3 linked regions of the Homo sapiens genome follow. The protein of the gene in region 2 interacts with the protein of the main gene of each other region in a pairwise test. Each region holds a gene or a part of one and is shown on either strand. Other genes may lie near its edges.

Evidence for each region.
Region 1: the proteins of KRT24 (region 2) and TSGA10IP interact in binary tests that used the Homo sapiens proteins (3 or more experiments, as listed by UniProt).
Region 3: the proteins of KRT24 (region 2) and TRIML2 interact in binary tests that used the Homo sapiens proteins (3 or more experiments, as listed by UniProt).

The regions. Positions count from the first base shown.
Region 1 is NC_000011.10:65,948,480-65,955,503, reverse strand, and holds part of TSGA10IP (testis-specific protein 10-interacting protein), read right to left. Parts: intron 1,938-7,024; coding exon 1,767-1,937; intron 1-1,766.
Region 2 is NC_000017.11:40,700,738-40,708,601, forward strand, and holds the start of KRT24 (keratin, type I cytoskeletal 24), read right to left. Parts: upstream 3,016-7,864; 5' UTR 2,957-3,015; coding exon 2,342-2,956; intron 1,197-2,341; coding exon 1,114-1,196; intron 560-1,113; coding exon 403-559; intron 1-402.
Region 3 is NC_000004.12:188,106,580-188,114,146, forward strand, and holds the start of TRIML2 (probable E3 ubiquitin-protein ligase TRIML2), read right to left. Parts: upstream 3,025-7,567; 5' UTR 2,664-3,024; intron 1-2,663.

The DNA of each region.
Region 1 (7,024 bases), on a different chromosome or scaffold from region 2:
GTAGCTGGGACTACAGTCGCGCGCCACTACGCCCAGCTAATTTTTGTATATATATTTTTTAGTATAGACGGGGTTTCATTACGTTGGCCAGGCTGGTCTCGAAATCCTGACCTCAGGTGATCCACTTACCTCGGCTTCCCAAAGTGTTGGGATTACAGGTGTGAGCCACGGCGTACAGCCGAGTACCTAACTCTTTTGCAAGATAAGCAGTCTTAGGGGATACCAGATGGCTACAAGTTCCCTCATACCTAGCACAGCCCAGGAAAAAAAAAACAAAAGCCCCTTATTCATAATGTAGCTTCCCCGATCTCCAGCCAATCAGCACCAAAAGCCCAAGAAGCTATTAGCTACAAATTCCTGCCTTGGAGGGAGCTAAGGACTTCTCGGGGTTCCGCATACACAGCTAGGCTCAAGGTTTAGCTTATAGCAACATTTTCCTCGTTTTGATGGTAAAAAAACACACCCCTAGGTAGAGATTGTATATGCTAATGTTACATGTGATGCGTGTTGGAGCATGCAGATGCTGAGCGCATGCGCCCACCACAGGTCCACCTTTGCATACCTGACCTCACCAGTATTTTGTGACTAGGTATAAACAACTTCCATAAAAGGAATTCCTCTTAAGGCACAAGCTGCCGTCTCTCCCTCTGAGCAGTCCTCAGGGTGGGCTTTTTTTTTTTTTTTTGAGATGGAGTTTTTGCTCTGTCGCCCAGGCTGGAGTGTAGTGGCTCAATTTCGGCTCACTGCAACCTCCATCTCCCGGGTTCAAGCAATTCTCCTGCCTCAGCCTCCCGAATAGCTAGGATTACAGGTATGTGCCACCGCACCTGGCTACTTTTTGTATTTTTAGTAGAGATGAGGTTTCACCATGTTGGTCAGGGTGGCCTTTGCTTTGCAATAAACTTTTTCTTTTGTGCGGCCAAGGGAAGAACCTGACCTGGCCCACCAGCAGCAATACTCCCTGCTTCACGGACCTGTTAGGAGTCCAAAAACGTTTGCCCACAAATCTGCTTATTAGGAAAATGGTCACGGCCAGGTGCAGTGTCTCACACCTGTAATCCCAGCACTTTGGGAGGCTGAGGCGGGTGGATCACGAGGTCAGGAGATCGAGACTATCCTGGCTAACACGGTGAAACCCCGTCTCTACTAAAAATACAAAAAAAAAAAAAAATTAGCCGGGCGTGGTGGCGGGCGCCTGTAGTCTCAGCTACTCGGGAGACTGAGGCAGGAGAATGGCGTGAAGCTGGGAGGCGGAGATTGCAGTGAGCCGAGATCGCGCCACTGCACTCCAGCCTGGGCGACAGAGCGAGACTCCGTCTCAAAAAAAAAAAAAAAGGAAAATGGTCACAATATAGGAAGAGAACAAAACGCGACTCTTCAGCTGACTGTGAACAATGGTTGTCTCCCAGAGTGGGGTCACACGGCTGTTCACCTTCTCCAGGCATTATTTCTGTAATCTTTGAAATTTTATAACAAGCATGTCTGGCATTGGAAATCAGAAAATGAAGATTTGAAAGTGTGATCATACATGTAGAATATTTTAACCTTGACCATTCAACAGCTGCAGAGATTGTCATTATTAACTGGGTGGCCTTCGACAGACCCCTTCTCCCCATGCCTCAGCGTCCTTATCTGGAAACGCGGTGAAGTGGCCTGGTTAGCCCCAGGGAAGGCGAGGGCTGGTGCTCCTCGGTCCTGTAGACTGAGACCTGACACGGCCTCCCTGCCCTCTCCCAACCAGGCCTCCCGAAGCCCAGGCTCCCTACCTCAGCTCCTCCAGCTTGCGCTGGGCCGCCCCAGGGCCCCGGCTCCCTCTGGGTGCGTAGGCTGCCAGGCAGTGGGCCACCTGCCGCTGTACATGCTGTGTCCGGGCCCGCCGCAGCTCGGCCTGCTGCCGCTCCTCCTGCCGCTGCCGCTCCCAGGCCTGCAGCAGGCTCCTTGGGTGAGAAAGGGAAGGGGAATGAGAGGTTCACGGGCAGCAGGAGCCTCACGGAGGGCCAGGGGCTGGATAAGGGAATATGGAAGCCTGTGGGGAGGGGCTGCAGTGTCCAGAGCCAGTGTCCTGGGAGTAGGGTTTGTCATGGAAGTCCATGACAGAGACTGCCCTGGAGGCTCAGCCCTCGGTCCCAGCTCAAGGCCTTTCCCTACTCTTTCTAGAAGTCTCCTGCTTCCAGGCCAGGCACGGTGGTTCATGCCTGTAATCCCAGCACTTTGGGAGGTGGAGGCAGGCGGATCACCTGAGGTCAGGAGTTTGAGACCAGCTTGGTCATCATGGTGAAACCCTGTTTCTACTAAAAATGCCAAAATTAGCCAGGCGTGGTGGCATATGCCTGTAATCCCAGCCACTCAGTAGGCTGAGGTGGGAGAATTGTTTGAACCAGGGAAGCAGAGGTTGTAGTGAGCCGAGACCACGCCATTGTACTCCAGCCTGGGCAACAAGAGCAAAACTCCATCTCAAAAAAAAAAAAAAAAAGAAAGAAAGAAAAAAGAAATGAAGGGTGCTTTGGAAGAATTAATATTGTTAAAATGTCCATATTATCCAAAGCAATTTACAGATTCAATGCAAGCCTATCAAAATTCCAATGACATTTTTCACAGAAATAGAAAAAACAATTTTAAATTAATATAGAACCACAAAATACTCCAAACAGCAAAAGCAATCTTGAGCCAAAAAAAAAGGCCAGGCATGGTGGCTCACACCTGTAACCCCAGCACTTTGGGGCTGATGCAGGTGGATCGCTTGAGCCCAGGAGTTTGAGACCAGCTTGAGCAACATGGTATATATACACAATGGTATATATTGTGTATATATTGTGTATAAAAGGTGGTCTATATATACAATGGCATTCTTCAGCCTTAAACCCCATCTGTACTGAACATACAAAAAATTAGCCAGGCATGGTGGACCAGACCTGTAGTCCTAGCTACTCGGGAGGTTAAGGTGGGAGAATCACCTGAGCCCAGGAAGTCAAGACTGCAGTGAGCCATGATTGAGCCACTGCATTCCAGCCTGGGTGACAGATTGAGACTCTGCCACACACACACAGACACATACACACACACACACCACACACACACACACACACAAAAGAAAGCTTAACGACACTTGTCTGGGCAATGGTTTTTTGGCTATGACCCAGAAAGCACAGGCAACAAAAGCTAAAATAGACAAATGAAGTTGCATCAAACTGAAAAGCTTCTGCACAGCAATGGCAACAATCAACAGAGATGACATACAGAATGGGAGAAAATATTTGCAAACCATACATCTGAAAAGGGGTTAATATCCAAAATATGTGAACTCAAGTAACTCAGTAACAAGAAAGCAAATAACTCAAAAAATGGGCAAAGGCCAGGCGCGACGGCTGTTGCCTGAAATCCCAGCACTTTGGGAGGCCAAGGCGGGCAGATCATTTGAGGTCTGGAGTTCGAGACTAGTCTGGCCAACATGGTGAAACCCTGTCTCTACTAAAAAAATACAAAAAAATTAGGCAGACCTCGTGATGTACGTCTGTAATCCCAGCTACTCAGGAGGCTGAGGCAAGAGAATCACTTGAACCTGGGAGGGGGAGGTTGCAGTGAGCCAAGATTATGCCACTGCACTCCATCCTGGGTGACGAAGTGAGGCTCCATCTCAAAAAAAAAAAAAAGGCAAAGAGTCAGGGCATGGTGACTCACACCTGTAATCTCAACACTTTGGGAGGTGGAGGCAGCAGGATCACCTGAAGCCAGGGGTTGAGACCAGCCTGGGCCACATAGCAAGACACCTATCTCTACAAATAAAAAGTTAAAAAATAAATCAGCTGGATGTGGTGGCATGCACCTGTAATCCCAGCTACTCAGGAGGCTGAGGTGAGAGGGTCACTTGTGCCCAGGAATTCAAAGCTGCAGTGAGCTATGATCGTGGCACTGCACTCTAGCCTGGGCGACAGAGCGAGACTCCATCTCAAAATAATAATAATAATAATAATAATAATAATAATAAAATAAGCAAATAACCCAAATAGACATTTCTCAAAAAAAGACATACAAATGTCTTTTTCATCACTAATCACTAATCATCTGGGAAATGCAAAATAAAATGATAATAAGATATCACCTCACGCCTGTTAGAATGACTATTACCAAAATGATGAAAGATAAGGGTTGGTGATGATGTGGAGAAAAGGGAATCTCTGTTTACTGTTGGTGGGAATATAAATTAGTACAGTCATTATAGAAAACAATATCAAGGTTCCCCAAAAAATTACAAGTAGAACTACTATGTGATCCAGCAACCCACTTCTGGGTACATATTCAAAGGAAATGAAATTAGTATGTTGAAGAGGTAGCTGTACTCCTATGTTCATTGCAGGAATATTCACAGTAGCAAAGATATGAGATCAACCTAAGATTCCATCAACAGAAGAATGGATAAAGAAAAGGTGGTATATATACACAATGGCATTCTTCAGCCTTAAAAAGAAGAAAATCCCATCATTTGCAACAACATGCATAAACCTGGAGGACACTATGTTAAGTGAAATAAGCCAGGCACAGGAAAACAAATACCATATAATCTCCCTTATGTGCCAAATCTTAAAAAAGTCAAACTCAGCATAATGGGACCCCATCTCTACCAAAATTTTAAAAATTAGCCAGCAGCCAGGTGTGGTGGCTCACGCCTGTAATCCCAGCACCTTGGGAGGCTGAGGCGGGTGGATCACGAGGTCAGGATAGCGAGACCATCCTGGCTAACACAGTGAAACCCCATCTCTACTAAAAATACAAAAACTTAGCTGGGTGTGGTGGCGGGTGCCTGTAGTCCCAGCTACTCAGGAGGCTGAGGCAGGAGAATGGCGTGAACCCGGGAGGCGGAGCTTGCAGTGAGCTGAGATCGCGCCACTGCACTCCAGCCTGGGCAACAGTGAGACAAGACTCCATCTCAGAAAAAAAAAAAAAAATTAGCCAGGCATGGTGGCTCATGACTGCAGTCCTAGAGCTCAGGAGGCTGAAGTGGGAGGATCACTTGAGCCCTGGAAGTCAAGGATGCAGTGAGCCATGATTGTGCCACTGCACTGCAGCCTGGGCAACACAGCAAGACCCTGTCTCTAAATAAATAAATAAATAAATAAAGTCAAACTCATAGAAGCAGAGAGTAGAATGGTGGTTACCAAGTCCTCACTGGGTTTGTGGGGAGAAGAAGGGAGATGTTGGTCAAAGGATAAGAAATTTCAGTTAGAGAGGAGAAATAAGTTCAAGAGATCTATTGTATGATCTGGTGTCTGTAGTTAAAAGCAATGTATTGTATACTTAAAAATCAATAAAAGAGTAGATTTTAAGTGTTCTCACTACAAAAAAAAAAATCAAGTAAGACCGGGAGTGGTGGCTCACGCCTGTGATCCCCGCACTTTGGGAGGCTGAGGCGGGCAGATCATGAGGTCTGGAGTTCGAAACCAGCCTGGCCAATATGGTGAAACCCCATCTCTATTAAAAATACAAAAATTAGCCAGGTGTGGTGGCAGGCACCGGTAATCCCAGCCATTTGGGATGCTGAGGCATGAGAATTGCTTGAACCCTGGAGACGGAGGTTGCAGTGAACTGAGATCACACCACAGCACTCCAGCCTGGGAACAGAGCAAGACTCTGTCTCAAAAAAAAAAAAAAAAAAAAACCGAGGTAATGCATATGTTAATTAGTTTGATTTAGACCTTCAACAATATAAACATATTTCAAAACCTCATGTTGTACACCATAAATACAATTTTTATTTATCAATTACATAAAATAAATTTTAAAAAAAGAATTGTGGCTGGGCGCAGTGGCTCATGCCTATAATCCCAGCACTTTGGGAGGCCGAGGCGGGCAGATCACGAGGTCAGGAGTTCAAGACCAGCCTGGCCAACATAGTAAAACCCCGTCTGTACTAAAAATACAAAAATTAGCCAGGCGTGGTGGTGGGCTCCTGTAGTCCCAGCTACTTGGGAGGCTGAGGCAGGAGAATCACTTGAACCTGGGAGTCGGAGGTTGCAGTGAGCCAAGACTGTGCCACTGCACTCCAGCCTGGGCAACAGAGTGAGACTCCATCTCAAAAAAAAAAAAAATTGTGGGGTGCTATAAGAATGCTGAATGAACTCTCCCCTGCCCTCACATGCCTCCTGTCACCAGTCACCATGGCCTATTGAACCAGCCTCTAAGTGTCTCTTAAATGGATCCCCTCCCTCCATCCACAGGGCCTCTTGGTTCCTCACCTCAGTGTTGCCAACAGTCTCCTCACAGCCTCCAGTCTCCCCTTCAGCTCCCACTGTCTCCTTTGCTTTAGAAACAGAGGCTCGCTCTGTTGTCCAGACTAAAATTCAGTGATGTCATCATGGCTCACTGCAGCCTTGATCTCCTGGGCTCAAGAGATCCTCCTGACTCAGCCTCTGGAGTAGCTGGGGCTACAGACACTTTCCACCAAGCCAGGCTAATCTTTTTTTTTTCCTTTGTAGAGACAGGGGTCTAGCTATGTTGACCAGGCTGGGTTTTTTGTTCGTTTGTTTGTTCGTTTGAGACAGAGTCTCACTCTGTCACCCAGGCTGGAGTGCAGTGCTGCAATCTCAGCTCACTGCAACCTCCGCCTCCCAGGTTCAAGTGATTCTCATGTCTCAGCCTCCTGAGTAGCTGGGACTCCAGGCACACACCACCATACTTGGATAATTTTTTATATTTTCAGTAGAGACAGGGTTTCGCCATGTTGCCCAGGCTGGTCTCGAACTCTTGAGCTCAGACAATCCACACGCCTTGGCCTCCCAAAGTGCTAGGATTATAGGCGTGAGCCACCACGCCCGGCCCCTTAACTTCTTTTTTAGAGACAGTGTCTCACTCTGTTGCCCATGCTGAATGCAATGGTGGGATCATAGCTCACTGCAGTCTTGATCTCCTGAACTCAAGAGATCCTCCTACCTCAGCCTCCTGAGTAGCTGGGACTACAAGCACGTGTCACCATGCCCAGCTAATTCCAAGTCTTTTAATAGTTATATCCTAAGGGCCCATGAGTAGATAA
Region 2 (7,864 bases):
TGCAACAGGTGTGCGCCATCATGCCCTGTTTATTTTTGTATTTTTAGTAGAGAGGGGGTTTCACCATGTTGGTCAGGCTGGTCTCGAAATCCTGATCTCATGATCTGCCTGCCTTGGCCTCCCAGAGTGCTGAGATTACAGGCATAAGCCACCGTGCCAGGCCTATTTTACTTTTTTAGAGACACAGTATCTCTCTGTTGCTCAGGCTGGAATCCAGTGGCATGATCATAGCTCACTGTGGCCTCCAACTCCTGGGTTCAAGGGATCCCCCTGCCTCGGCCTCCAGAGTAGCTGAGACTAAAGGCATGAGCCACTGCACCCAGCCAATTTTATTTGTATAGAATGCATATGGGGAGAAATATGTTAGCTAGAGTTATTCGTTTATGTAGAACATGTTCCTACCTCCTCGTGGTTCTTCCTCAGGTAGGCTAGCTCCTCGGTGAAACTCTCAATCTGCATCTCCAGGTCAGAGCGGGTCATAGTCAGGTCATCCAGGACTTTCCGCAGGCCATTGATGTCAGCCTCCACGCTCTGCCGGAGACACAGCTCGTTCTCATACCTGGAAGGGGCAGCAGTAAGGCAAAAAATACTGTGAGCTCACCTGGCCGTGTTTCAAAGGGTACCTTCCATTCTTACATATTGAAAAAGTTCTCACTTGTGGGCATTTTAATAAATAAAGGTTATTAAGTTTTCTCTTGGGAAATTTTCCCTTGTAAAGAAAAATACCAATGTAATGTTAATTCTAATCATGTCTAACATTTTTAATAATAAAATTCTCATTCTAAATTTGCCTCTTTCTTTTTTCTTTTTCTTTTTTCTTTTGCAGCTGTTGTAGGCTGATGAAAGGAGCAGAAGCGGCCGGTGTGTAGCTACTGGCTTAGGTGCTCAGCAGAGAGGATCTACCTGCCCCAGCATCAGTGGAGATTTGTCTAATGGTCTAAAGTTTACCCTTGGGATGTTTGTAAATTTAGGTCATGATCCTCTAGTATATATATATATATATATATATATATATATATATATATATATATATATATATATATTTATTTATAAAATGGAATAAAATTTATTTTTCTCCCGTAACACTTGTTTTCAAGTCTTTATGTTTCTTACTTCAGTCTGAAGTCATCAGCAGCCAATCTGGCATTGTCAATGTGCAAAATGATCCCAGCATTTTCAACAGTGGCAGCAATGATCTAAAAAAGATGTTAATAGTGAGTGAATCACGAATGATTTTTACCTTGTGTCTGCATGCCTACTTGTAAGGGTAGCTGTTGCCTGTGTTATTAGCTCTTTTTTTTGTGTGTGTGTAGAGACAGAGTCTCGCTCTGTCGCCCAGGCTGGAGTGCAGTGGCAAGATCTCAGCTCACTGCAACCTCCGCCTCCCATGTTTAAGCGATTCTTGAGCCTCAGCCTCCTGAGTAGCTGGGATTACAGGGGCGTGCCACTATGCCCGGCTAATTTTTTTTGTGTGTGTGTTTTTAGTAGACACGGGGTTTCACCATGTTGGCCAGGCTAATCTCAAATTCCTGACCTCAAGTGATTTGCCCGCCTCAGCCTCCTAAAGTGCTGGGATTACAGGTGTGAGCCACCGTGCCCGGCCTGTGCTATTAGCTTTTAAAGGTGACTTGCTTTGCAAACTTACTTAGTAATGACTAAGTATACAGCCCCAGACCTGTATATCTGGGGCTGGTATATTTAGGACTACATCTTTCTGCAAAAAGATAACAGTCTGCACATTTATTGGACTAGGCACAGGAACCTGTTTTACAGGACATAGTCCTCTGCATATTTCTGCTACTTTGTTAGATCATTATCTCATGAGCTTTTTCAGAAAATAGTGCAAAAATTGTATTTCACTTCCAAAAAAGTCTTTAAAAATATATTTCCCATACAAAAGTGGCTAAACATTTTAGATTCTACTACATTCTTATGTAATGTTTGCACCAGATTTTCTGGGAAGAAAAATAATACTAAAGAATATTTAAATCTTGTAAGACAATAAAATGTGTCAGTCTGTCAGAATTCATCATAAATAATTAGATTAAACTAATGTTGACTCACTGCCACCATTCTTATATATAAATGATAATTAGCTGCCTGGTGTTGTATAAGTTTTACTGTTATGTAGAAATACTGAAACTGAGATGGAAACAGAAAATTAATGTGATTGGACATCACATAAGGTACTATAATAATTAAGACACATCAGGTCCCACTTTGCATATGTAACAAGCAAATATGTTTTCAAATAATTTCTTAAAATTTTCATTATAGTACATGATCTGAAAAGAAGTGAAAGATCCACAAATAATAGAAACTCAGGCACAGATAGTCTCACCTGGTTTCTGAGATCTTCAATTATTGAATAGTATTTGCTATAATCTCTTCCCGATCCACCGTCTCCAGACCCAGGCCCATATTTGTCATACCACTCCTTGATTTTGTTCTCCAGATCAGTGTTAGCCTCCTCCAGGGCTCTGACCTTGTCTAGGTAATTGGCCAAGCGGTCATTGAGGTTCTGCATGGTTTGCTTTTCCCCTCCAGAGAAAAGCCCCCCATCGCCAACACCACCTCCCATACCACCACCATAGCTGTAGAAGCCTCCAGTAGCACCACTGCTGAATCTAGAACTCCCACAGAATCCAGAACCCCTGCCAAATCCAGAGACCCCGCCAAAGCTAGAACCCCCACCAAATCCTGTCCCAGAGCCTGAAGCTCCCCCAAAACCACCCCCTACTGAGCAGCTACCAAAGCCCCCTCCAAAGCTGCCCCCAAAAGCACCGCTAGACCCCCCACTCAGGCTGCAGCTGCTGGCTCCTCCTCGGAAGCCCTGGGCCGAGCTGCCCCCCAGACCACATCTGCTTCCACTGCTGAAGCTGCTTCCACCAGCAGACACCCTGGCTGAGCTGCTGCCTCCAGCCCTGGAGGAGGAGGCGCGAGACGAGCAAGACATGGTGCTCCTGCAAACATGAGCTTGTCCAGGCGAATAGGAGAGGTGATGACGAAGAGTGTATTCAAGGCTGCCTTTTTGGCCTTTATATACACACTTCGAGGGTGTTCCTTTTCTCTGTCACTTCTTAATCCCTGTTACAGTTTTGGTAATCCGTAATTGGATAATTTCTGTTTCTTGAACACTTCTCTGAAGCTAGGTCAGAGCCCTGGGACATTTACTATATCAATAAAAAAAGAATAAAGTGGAGCAAAACAAAAAAATTTTCAGAATTACAGTTTTAATCTTTCAGAGGTTTTGATGATTGGTAACTTTTCTCTGGAAGTGTAGTTCTATTAAATTTGCTTCATGATTTCACATTTGCAGAGAATATCTCCAGGTTAACAAATGTAATTAAAATACTTAATATGATGAGAATAAAAATTTCCCATCAATCATGTAACTTTTTTGTTCATATTGTTCTCAAAAGTTGAAATTAGCTTTCACATCAGCAATAATTTCAGATTTGATTAAGCATCCATCTCTTTGATTATTTCAATCAGCGTGTTTTTTAAGGTTGTTGAAGTTTGTGATTTTAAGTTATTGCTTTCTTTTTTTGTATTTTGTATAATATACAAAAAAGCATATAATTTGTAACAATTATGTTTTATAGTTCATAAGAAAAACATAAATAATAGTTTTCTAGGTAAGTATTATTACATCTCAGCAACATGTTTATTCAAGTAGCTAATGTCTAAGAAAGATTGAAAAGCTTTTAGGCAGATTGTTTTAATACGATTTTCTTTCTGGTTGAATTCTAGTCTGATATAAAGACAGCAACTTCCTTTTTGAGTCAAATTTCAAGAAATGAAGAGATGATGCAGATATCTCCTGCCTTCGTTTTAAAGATAAAAGAGGATTTGTATCTACTTCTGATAACTAGTGTTACAATTGGAGTTATTTTATAGATTCTGAACCCTCCTGAGCTCCCTTTGTGCTTCATGGCTTTTTGTCCCTTTGTATTTTAGACTGTTTCCATTCATGTCTTCTAGTCACTTCACCGGTTTAATAGTGTCTTTTTGAAAGACAGATACTGTATAATTCCAGTACTATGAGGTGCCTAGAGTAGTCAAATTCACAGAGACAGAAAGTAGAATGGTAGTTGCCAGTGGCCGAAGGGTTGGGGATAGACAGTTGTTGCTTACTGGGCATAGAATTTTAATTTTGCAATATGAAAAGAGTTTGGGGCCAGGCGTGGTGGCTCACACCTGTAATCCCAGCTCTTTGGGAGGCCGAGGCAGGTGGATCACCTGAGGTCAGGAGTTCGAGACCAGCCTGGCCAAGATGGTGAAATCCCGTCTCTACTAAAAATACAAAAAATTAGCCAGGCATGGTGGCAGGCGCCTGAAATCCTAGCTACTTGGGAGGCTGAGGCAGAGAATTGCTTGAACCCGGGAGGCAGAGGTTGCAGTGAGCCAAGATTGTGCCACTGGACTCCAGCCTCAGAGACAGAGTGAGACTCGTCTAAAAAAAAAAAAAAGAAAAGAGTTTGGGAGATTGGTTGCACAACAATGTCAGTACACTTAAGACTACTGAACTGTAAACTTATAAATGATGAAGATGATAAGTTTATGTTATATGTATTTTACCACAATTTTTAAAAAGTCTTAAAAAACAGGTGCTTCCAGAAATAGTTTGTATCCTCCTTAGCTTTAAACTTAAGTAGCTGACTTTTGTTTATTTAAGAATTTCTTCCTTCTTTTGCCAGTCTCTGTTAAACTATGTTCACACCTTAATCTTTATATTCAATTATTTGTTAAACAATGTTCTGCTTTAAATTTTTCCTTAAATTGCATTTTATTGGGACACATGATTAAATAGGTAATCATTCACTTTACTATGTAGCTCTTATGTGGCTTTTATGATCTACCTGTACTGTTTTCACAGGAGTATGATGTTACTCTTCTTCATATTTAGGGTGACATATCTCCAAGGGGTACATGGTGTACAAAATTTTAAATTGTTAAGCTGGGAGTAATTTTTATAACGCCCTTCTAAAGTAGCTAAAAAATGCACCACACATAATGTGTTGGTCATCCTGCCTCGCCCATCCCTAAAGCTGTGAAACCAAAGAAAACTAAACCCTAATGATTAAATGGTATGCAAATGCTGGCAATGGGAGGAACAGTCACAGAGTGTTTCTCCCTTTTAAAACTATGAAATGTAATCTTTCAATTTTCATAAAGACTTGCATTTGGCTGAAAGCACGTTTAAATCCCAGCTCCTTCGGAGGCTGAAGCAGGAGAATTGCTTGAACCCGGTGGGTGGAGCTTACAGTGAGCAGAGATTGTGCCACTGCACTCCAGCCTGGGCGACAGTGCGAGACTCCATCTCAAAAAAAAAAAAAAAAAAAAGACAGAGAGAGAGAGACAGACTGAATCTTAGGTGTCTGGGCTCCCAGTTCAAATTTTGAATAGTTTGTGATTAGAAGTTTATTTCTACCTGTAAAGAAACATATAAAAGCTATATTTCCTTATAGAATATGATTTTAATAATAAGTGCAGAATGATTTGCAGATAGTAACCATCAATTTTTTTTTGTGTGTGTGGGGGATAGATTATTAGTATTTAAATATTTTTCAGATTAACATATTGCAGGTTTTTAGACTAGTAGGAAAACCAAATACTGAAATGCATGGCATATGGCTCCTGATGAATCTTTACAGAATTGAGAACAGAACTTGGGTATTCTATCTTCTGTTCATTCAAGAAAATATACTGTTTTGTGTTTTTCAAATAGAAGCATCACATCAGAGTAGTTAAGGGAAGTTGCTGGGTTTAGAGTATTTGTTGAATGTTGACAAAACTTTCTGTGGCAGACAGTAAAAAAGAAGGGAAAATATACATTTAAAAAAATTTTAACTTTTAACTTTTGTGGGTGCATAGTAGGTATATAGATTTATGGGGTACATAAGATATTTTGATATAGGTGTACATATCCCATCAGGGTAAATGGGGTACCCATCACCTCCAGCACTTATCCTTTGTGTTACAAACATTCCAATTATACTATTTTTTAGTTATTATAAATTATACAAGTAAATTATTATTGACTATAGTCACTCTGTTATACTATGAAACACTAGGTCTTATTCATTTTTCTAACTATTTTTGGTACCCATCAAGCGTCCTCACTTTTCCCCTACTCCCCCGTTTCCCTTCCCAGCCTCTGATAACCATCATTCTACTCTCTATCTTCATGAGTTCAATTGTTTGAATTTTTAGCTCCCACAAGTAAGTGAGAATACACAAAGTTTGTCTTTTTGTGCTTGGCGTATTTCACTTAACATAATGACCTCCAGTTTCATCCACGTTGTTGCAAATGACAAGATCTCATTCTTTTCATGACTGAATAGTACTCCGTTGTGTATATGTGCCACTTTTTTTTTTTTTTAAGACAGGTTTCACTCTCGTCACCCAGACTTGAGTGCAATGGCGCGATCTCGGCTCACTGCAACCTCCACCTCCTGTGTTCAAGCGATTCTCCTGCCTCAGCCTCCCGAGTAGCTGGGATTACAGGCACCCACCACCATGACCAGCTAATTTTCATATTTTCAGTAGAGACAGGGTTTCACCATGTTGGCCAGGCTGATCTTGAACTCCTGACCTCGTGATCCGCCCTCCTTGGCTTCCCAAAGTGCTGGGATTACAGGCATGAGCCACCGCGCCTGACCTGTGCCACTTTTTCTTTATCCATTCTACTGTTGATGGATGCTTAGGTTGCTTCTAAATCTTGTCAGTAGTGCTGTAATAAACATGGGAGCACAGACATCTCTTTAATATAGCAATTTTCTTTCTTTTGGACACATTGGAAAGTATAAATTTGATGTGTGAACAGTCTCTTTGCAATGCCGTTGCAATGACAGATAGTAGATAGACAATAAATATTCCTTGAATTAATAAAAACTAACATGGCCTGATTTTCTTCATGAACAACTTGGATCACTGATTACTTTTGTTCTTTACTATGTGTTGTGTTTTGTTTTCTGAATCTTTATGCTCCACTTCTGGGTTAGTGATTCTCAGTGTGTGGTGGCGGAGAGCGGGGCTTGGCAGTAAGAGGAAATGTTGTTTGGGAAGAGGGCAGAAAGGTCAGGCAAGAGTCAACCGGGGACCTTCCTGTAGGGAATCATTGTTTGGGCCAGCTTCCTGCTGGTGGCTGCTCTAGGCCCCGCCAGGGTCAACTACTTGGAAGAGAAAAAAGGTTTTGCAATAATAACATGACTAAGAGCCCACTCCAGTAGATCTGGCACCACCCGTCGATGGATTGGGTGTGTCATTGTCACACCCCAGAAATCCACCAATTCTGTGGCTGTTTCTCTTCCTTCATCACTTTCTCTCCTTCCCCACCACCCTCGTCCATTCTTTCTCTTCCTGGTTTCACTTAAGTGTGTCTATTTGAAGGCTTCCTCTTCTCCACCAGGAAGCATCTGCTTGGTCATGCCATTTTGCCAAATTTTGTTCTGGGAAGAAAAATCACCTGGCTTTGTTCTTGTATGTGAGTGCTTTCAAATCTCTTTAAATAACTCAATTCTCTATGTTTCCTGAAGATCTTTCCGTGAGTTTATGGAGAATTAAGAGAATGGGTGAGTGACTTTGCGGGGGTTGGGATGCTTTGTCCTCCAGGCTCCACAGATAAGACAGTTTGAAATAAGCACAGTTTTCAAGGATTAGCTCTGCTTAAAAAGTCCTTTTGTGCCTTTCTTCATACCAGACAGACAGTAGTCTTCTCTTCAGAGAATCCAAAAGCATGAACAATCCAGATCATAACTTGAGCAGTAGGGCCTAGCCCCTGTGCCTCTTGCCAATGCTAAGTTGATACACTGGGCCTTCCTGCTCTGTCTCTTCCAGCTTGACCCCTCAACCTCCTGCT
Region 3 (7,567 bases), on a different chromosome or scaffold from region 2:
CGGAGCTACACGCCCTCCAGGTGACCGGCCAGGAGACGGTCTCCCAGGTCGCGGCTCAGGCAGCGCCACTGGAGGGCTTCGCCCCGGAAGATCTATCGTGCTCCTGGCAGGCGCGTCCCTGCAGGGCGAGGCCACCCTGGACCAGGGCGAAGTGGGAGGCCCCGACTGCCCGGGAGGCCAAGTCCGTGGTTCCCCGGCCCGCGCTGGGAAAGTGACAGGTCAGACTCTTGCTAAGGTGGCCAAGCGAGAAGACAGGCCGGGCTGAGCCGCGGGTGCGGTACCACCGGCGCTTTGTCGACGTTGTGCCCATCTTTGGCAAGAAGAAGGGCCCCAATGTCCTTCTTAAGTCCTTTGTAATTCTGGCTTTCTCTATTAAAAAAGCCACTTAGCTCGAAAACTTTTTTCTCAGAAAAATGTTTTTGTTTTTATTATTTTATTAACTTATTTATTTATTTTTGAGACCGAATCTCTGTCGCCCAGGCTGGAGCACAGTGGCACGATCTCAGCTCACTGCAACCTCCGCCTCCCGGGTTCAACCGACTCTCCTGCCTCAGCCTCCCGAGTAGCTGGGACTACAGGCGCGTGAAACCACACCCAGCTAATTTTTTGTATTTTTAGTAGAGACGGGGTTTCACCGTGTTGGCCACACTGATCTGGAACTCCTGACCTCAGGTTATCTGCCCGCCTCAGCCTCAGTGCTGGGATTACAGGTGTGACCCACCGTGCCTGGCTTGTTTTTATTATTTTAAATGAATAACTATAAAATGCAGTTTTAAATTTCTAATACAGTAAACATAGATATTAACGCTCATAAACAAAAGCTTATTGGGATCTTCGTCAATAATGAGTGCAAAGGAGTACTGATTCCAAAAAGTTGAGAATCTTGGCCTGAAAAGGCATATTCCCCACAAATAGGACTGTGAATGAATGCATCCATAATTTTGATATGTTTTGTCAGTTTCCCAAGCACAAAAGTTGTACAATTTTGCACTCCAAGCAACAAATTAAAAAGATGTTAAACTTTTGGATCATTGCCCACTGGCTGGGTGAGAAATAGTGTATTCATATATTTTCAACTTCCATCTGTTATATTATTAATATGTCTAAGCCTTTTATTTTCATATGCTAAAAAACCATTTTCACTTCTTTTGCTGTGAAGTCTATGTTCAAGCCTCTCTCTCAGTTTATTCCATCAGGTTTGGCCTTTTTGGAGGGAGGGGTCAATTTTAAGAGAGAGCTATAGATCCAAGTTCCTGTAAATTGTGTGAGTTGCAAATACTTTCTCCCTCCTTCCTTGTTTTTGATGCTCTCATCCTTTCTTCTGCTTAGGTCTTTGAAATCCCTGCTGGTTTCCCGTGTCTTAGGTCCCTGAACATGTCCGAGATGACTCCACTGAGTCACCAAAACAAAGAAATTCACCAACTCAAATTTTTCCTTGAGCTCTCAGCAGCAGTTAACATAGCTGACCACACCCTTCTTCCTAGAATGTTTTCTTCTCTCATCTGTCTGCAGCTGACATTCCTCTAACTTGTCTGGTCTTGTTCTCCGTGGCCTTTTCTGGTCCCACATCCTCTGAACCTCTCAATCTTGGGGTGCTTCAAGGTTGAGTTCTGGTCTCCCAGTCCTGGTCTCTCCCTAGGTAATCTTACTCGTTTCTGAAGATTTAAGTTCCATTCTCCGATTTCAATCTCCTGCCCAATTCCCAACATTTTTGCAATAGAATGTCTAAGGAGCACTCAAAATTAACATATCTAAAGCCGCTCAGGATCTCAACCCAGTGGCTCTCTTCCCCCAAACTCATTCCTTTAGAGCCACAGTTTAAGCCTTCCTTTCACCAATTCAACTATTGTTTTCCAAATTTATATTCTGTCCTGCCCTCCTCGTCCATCTCCAGCTCCTCTCTGCTCAACCACCAGAATACTATTTTAAAACCAAAACCAAGTGAGCAGGTTTGTGGTCACTTTCTATGGCATTAGAGTAAGATCGAAGTGGGTAATAACCCCGTCCTATACAATCTGGCCTCCTGCCTTCTTCTGATCTCTCTATAGCTTTCCCCCATCACTGTCAATCTAGCTGCCTCTAATTCATCACAGCCCTTCCCCCTTCCGTGGCCAACAGAGCTCTTCTCTCATATTTTTGCAATTCCAGCTGCCTCTTCTTTCTTCTCTTCAGTTCTCAGCTCAAATGTCTTCCCAAGAGAGACCTTTCCATCACTACTCAATTTGAAATACCTTCCCACTACTCATCTCCTTATTTTATTTTCTTAGTAGCGAAAAGATTTTATCTTTCTATGAACAAGTTTACTTGTGGGTCACTCTCCATCCATAAGAAACTAAGTCCTTGAGATGCCCTGTGTCTACATCTGACATACTCGATGCACAATAAATATTGTAAACGATATTTTATGTTAAACCAGTAAAAATTGAAGGTGTAATGAGAGAGGGACAGAGACTAAATATTTTTACAGAAACAGCAAAGGAAAATTGACGAATTAAGTCCCCAGCATGTTGTCTACCCTTATTTTGTTTTTCCTAATATTTTTCTTCAGGCTTTTTCCTGATAACACACAGATACACACACACACACATAGATTCTAAGATCAAGTTTAGAAATCTAAAGAAACAATTATTAAGAAAATGATCTATAGAGAAAATCTCACTTACTTTCTTTGTAGCAATCCTGGGTATTTCCTTTTTTTTTTTTTTTTTTTTTTTTGAGACAGGGTCTTGCTCTGTCACCCAGGCTGGAATGCAGTGGCGCAATCTCGGCTCACTACAGCCTCGAGCTCCCAGGCTCAAGTGATTCTCCCACCTTGACCTCCTGAGTAGCTGGGATTACAGGCGCTGCACGACCACACCCGGCTAATTTTTGTATTTTTTGTAGAGACGGGGTTTCAGTATTTTTCCCAGGCTGGTCTTGAACTCCTGGGCTCAAGCAATCTGCCTGCTTCAGCCTCCCAAAGTACTGGGATTACAGGAATGAGTCACCACACCGAACCAAGGTATTTCCTTTAGGGAAAAAGCTGGAACAGTGGAGACTGAAGAGATTTTATCTGTTCAATTCCTCCCTCAGCCCCGCCCTCACACCATCAGGAAGGCGTCTGTGAAGTTTCTTATCATATTCACACAATTAATCTCATTAGAACCACCTGAGTTTATTAAAACGCAAGCCTCTTCACAGGGTCTCTGATTCCAGAAATCTACGGTGGGGTCCGTAATTTACATTTTTAATGGACTCCCAGAAAATGCTTAATAGCCCTGACCTTGGTTGGATAAATATCTTGTTTTATCTCCAGTGCCATGTACAGTGCCTAACACCTCTAGCTCCTTAAGGTTTGGGGTTTTCTTTCTTAATGAATCTAGTGTATATTGACAATTTCACAGGAAAGAAGCCTTCGAGCTAACACTCAAGACTGTGTTTGTTCCTTAGTAGAAAATAATGCCTGACTTGTTAGTTTCTAGAACGTTTGCTGGAGAAGTGTTCATTCCAGTATCTGTGGAAAGAAAAACCAAGAGTAGGGATAACTGCCTATGGAATCTGTCACAGATGGGAGGTCAGGGAACAATCCCAGATAATTCATACTTGATATTTGGCTTCAGTGAGGAGGAACTCTTCACAGCTTTCTAAGTTTTATAGTTTTGTCCCCGAGGGTTTTTATTGCATCAGTCAGTCAATCCCCTGCTAATCAAACCAGGGAGTTTTTTTCTTTATGCTGCTGACAGGATAATGAGAATTCTTCTGCTTTGCTTATCTGATCTTTCAGAACCTGGTTCTACCTTATGGAATCTCAATACACCGTTTCTCTTTTTCTTTTTTCTTTCTTTTTTTTTTTTTTTAGATGAGAGTCTCACTCTGTTGCCTAGGCTGGAGTGCGGTGGAGCGATCTCGGCTCACTGCAGCCTCCGCCTCCCAGGTTCAAGCAATTTTCCCACTTCAGCCTCCCGAGTAGCTGGGATTATAGGCGCCCACCACACCCAGCTAATTTTTGTATTTTTAGTGGAGATGGGGTTTCACCATGTTGGCCAGGCTGGTCTCAAACTCCTGACCTCAGGTGACCCACCCTCCTTGGCCTCCAAAAGTTCTGGCCACCGCGCCTGGCCATACACCCTTTCTCTTATCTCAGATGATTACCTACACCCACTCTCTTTTCCAAAACCCAATTCCCCAGCTTTCTTCAAATAGACCACATTTATTCCTGTGCCCCCTCCCCTCCTCAGCCAGTCCATCCTCCTTTACTTCTCTTATTTTTCTAATCCAATCTTCCTTTCTCTTCTAAGCCTGGGTACGGCCAACGTCTGTGAAGATACTCACACATACTTGTTGTCAGATACTCTGTCATTTACTCTCACCATCCCTTGAGCTTTCATAACTCTTGAGCTTACTCATCTTGACAAGAAAACTTTGTAATCTTTGAATCAAATGGAAAATAAACATCAAGCATATTGTCAGGTTTTGAAGTCTCTTAAAGCCTGTTTTAGAGTATTAAATGCTTAAATAAATACTTATTAAAGCCTGTTTTACTATTAAATAAATATTTATTAATAATTAAATTATTAATTCTAGAAGAGTCAATATTTTAAGATAATTCTAAAAACATTACAAAAAAGTGTGCTAAACCCTTATTTACTGTTACATGCCCCACCTGTTGCATGCTCCAACCCCGTGAGGTACATCTGCAGCTGATGAAGTAGATGACGTAGAGATTAAGTCACGGGATTAAGTAATTGACCAAGAGCACTGGGTGCAGAAAATTGAAGATATGGAATTTGAATCGGGTGCCAAATTTCATGATATTTCCTTATTATAATTATTTGTCCTTATTAAATATTAATCAAATGGCTTGACAATTTACAAAAAAGATGCCTCAAATTTGTATGACAATTTATCACGAGATGCTTTCATAGGGCTAGAGTAATCACATTACAAGGAACACAGATCATTTTAAGGTAGTTAGATTTTTCATAGGAAAACTTTTCATTAAAATGAAAATCCTGAAGAAATGTAGTTTTTTTTCACTGTCAAAGAACAAATACAATTATGAATGAGTGAGTCATTGTTCTCCTGAGTCATTTCATGAACTTATAACAGTCGTATCCCAGCCGGGCACTCTGGCTCATGCCTGTATCCCCAGCACTTTGGGTGACCGAGGCGGGTGGATCACTTGAGGTCAGGAGTTCGAGACCAGCCTGGCCAACATGGGAAACCTCATCTCTACTAAAAATACAAAAATTAGCCGGAAATTGCTTGAACCCAGGAGGCGGAAGCTGTAGTGAGCCAAGATCGTGCCACTGCACTCCAGCCTGGGCAACAGAGCAAGACTCGGTCTCAAAAAACCAGGACAAAACAAAAACAGTCCTGTCCCCTTTGTTAGCCACATCACCTTCACCACTCGCCCCAGGCTGGCATACTCTCGGCTTCTGGGTGGGATGAGTATGGCTGGTGCCAAACAAGGCTGTATTTGTTACTTTGGACCAAATCTGCGGCAGGAGACTACCACCTCCTCCCATTCCAGAAAAGAACAGCTGGAGGCGGGGGTGTGCTGGTTGTGGTCCCAGTGTTATCACTCATCTGGAAGGTGTGGCTTCTCTCTGGCTCCTTTTCTCCAAGGCTGCTCCATTAGAAGCAGGGGCTTGGCTCTCACTGGTTTACTTCCCACAGCTCTAAGAGGTCCAGAAGTCATGTTCAACTGCTTCTTCCTTGCTTAAGAAAGCATTAAAACTTAAGAATCAGGCCAGGCGCAGTGGCTCACGCCTGTAATCCCAGCACTTTGAGAAGCCGAGGCAGGCGGATCACCTGAGTTCCGGAGTTCGAGACCAGCCTGATCAACATGGAGAAACCCCGTCTCTACTAAAAATACAAAATTAGCCGGGCGTGGGCGCATGCCCAGCTACTCAGGAGGCTGAGGCAGGAGAATCACTTGAACCCAGGAGGTGGAGGTTGCAGTGAGCCGAGATCGCGCCACTGCACTCCAGCCTGGGCAACAAGAGCAAAGCTCTGTCTCAAAAAAAAAAAAAAAAAATTAAGAGTCAAACATTATGGGGGCCGGGCACTGTGGCTCATGCCTGTAATCCCAGCACTTTGGGAGGCCGAGGCAGTTGGATCACAAGGTCAAGAGATCAAGACCATCCTGGCCAACATGGTGAAACCTTGTCTCTACTAAAAATATAAAAATTAGCTGGGCATGGTGGCGGGCACCTGTAATCCCAGCTACTTGGGAGGCTGAGGCAGGAGAATCGTTTGAACCCGGTAGGCAGAGGTTGCAGTGAGCCGAGATCACAGCCACTGCACTCCAGCCTGGGCGACAGAGCAAGACTCTGTTTCAAAAAAAAAAAAAAAAAAGAATCAAACATTATGGTCGACCTCATGATAGCACAGTTACCCATTTGTTGTTGTAAGTCAGTGCATGCTTATCTGAACCCAACATGTTCAGTTTGCTTGCACTCTTTTGTAAGGAAGATAATCCTCCTAACAATTCCAGCAGAATTAAGAGGTCACCTTCACCTCACCTATTACAACACCGGGACAAGCCCTATCGGTTTTCACCAGACAGAATACCCTCAGCAAAAGGAACGGGCTGGTTTAACTGAAATCAGTGAATCCTGAGCAAATAAACTTCGGATTTTTGCCAAAGTTCACAGGCTGAGGAAAGCATCATGTCTCATGGATGAAGTTAGACTGACGTGGGCTCTGATTCCAGCTTGGCCACACACTTGTCATGACCTGCAGCAAGCCACTGAACGCTGAGCATCACTTGCACCATGAGTCACCGTCACCATCTTCCACAAGTCTCTGAGCATTAGGAGAGGTTCGATGAAATACACGTAGGAGCGAGGAGGGTGGTAATGAGAACAGAAATTGCTCTCTGAATGAGTATGCTTCCTCTCCTCACCCAGAGTCATTCTTTTCAGCAAAGTCAAGAGCACGGCCCTCTACATAAGGGAGAGTGCAGCCGGGAAGGTGATGGAGGTGGTAGAGATGAATTATTGGCATATGGGAAATAAAGAGATCTTTGATGCCCTTTTCAGTTTCTTTTGTTTAATAATATATATATTAGTAATGTAGTAATTGCGTAATTGATATCAAGGCATATATTCAGCTTTTATTAATGTAATGTTTATCTGAAAACTTTTAGGCCACTGGTATAATTTTTTTTTTTTTGATACTGAGTCTTGCTCTGTCACTCAGGTTGGAGTGCAGTGGCACGATCTCAGCTCACTGCAACCTCCGCCTCCTGGGTTCAAGTGATTCTCCCACCTCAGCCTCCCGAGTAGCTGAGACTACAGGTGTGTGCCACCATGCCCAGCTAATTTTTGTATTTTTAATAGAGACAGGGTTTCACCATATTGGCTAGGATTGTCTCGATCTCCTGACCTCGTGATCGACCCACCTTGTCCTCCCAAGGTGCTGGGATTACAGGTGTGAGCCACCGTGCCCGGCCACTGGTATAAATTTTTAGGAAGAATTTTTTTCTGTTCCATTATAGTCAGTTTCAACAATAAAGCCTCATTGTCAAGATATTAAAATCGCTGGGCATGGTGGCGCCCACCTGTAGTTCCAGCTACTTGGG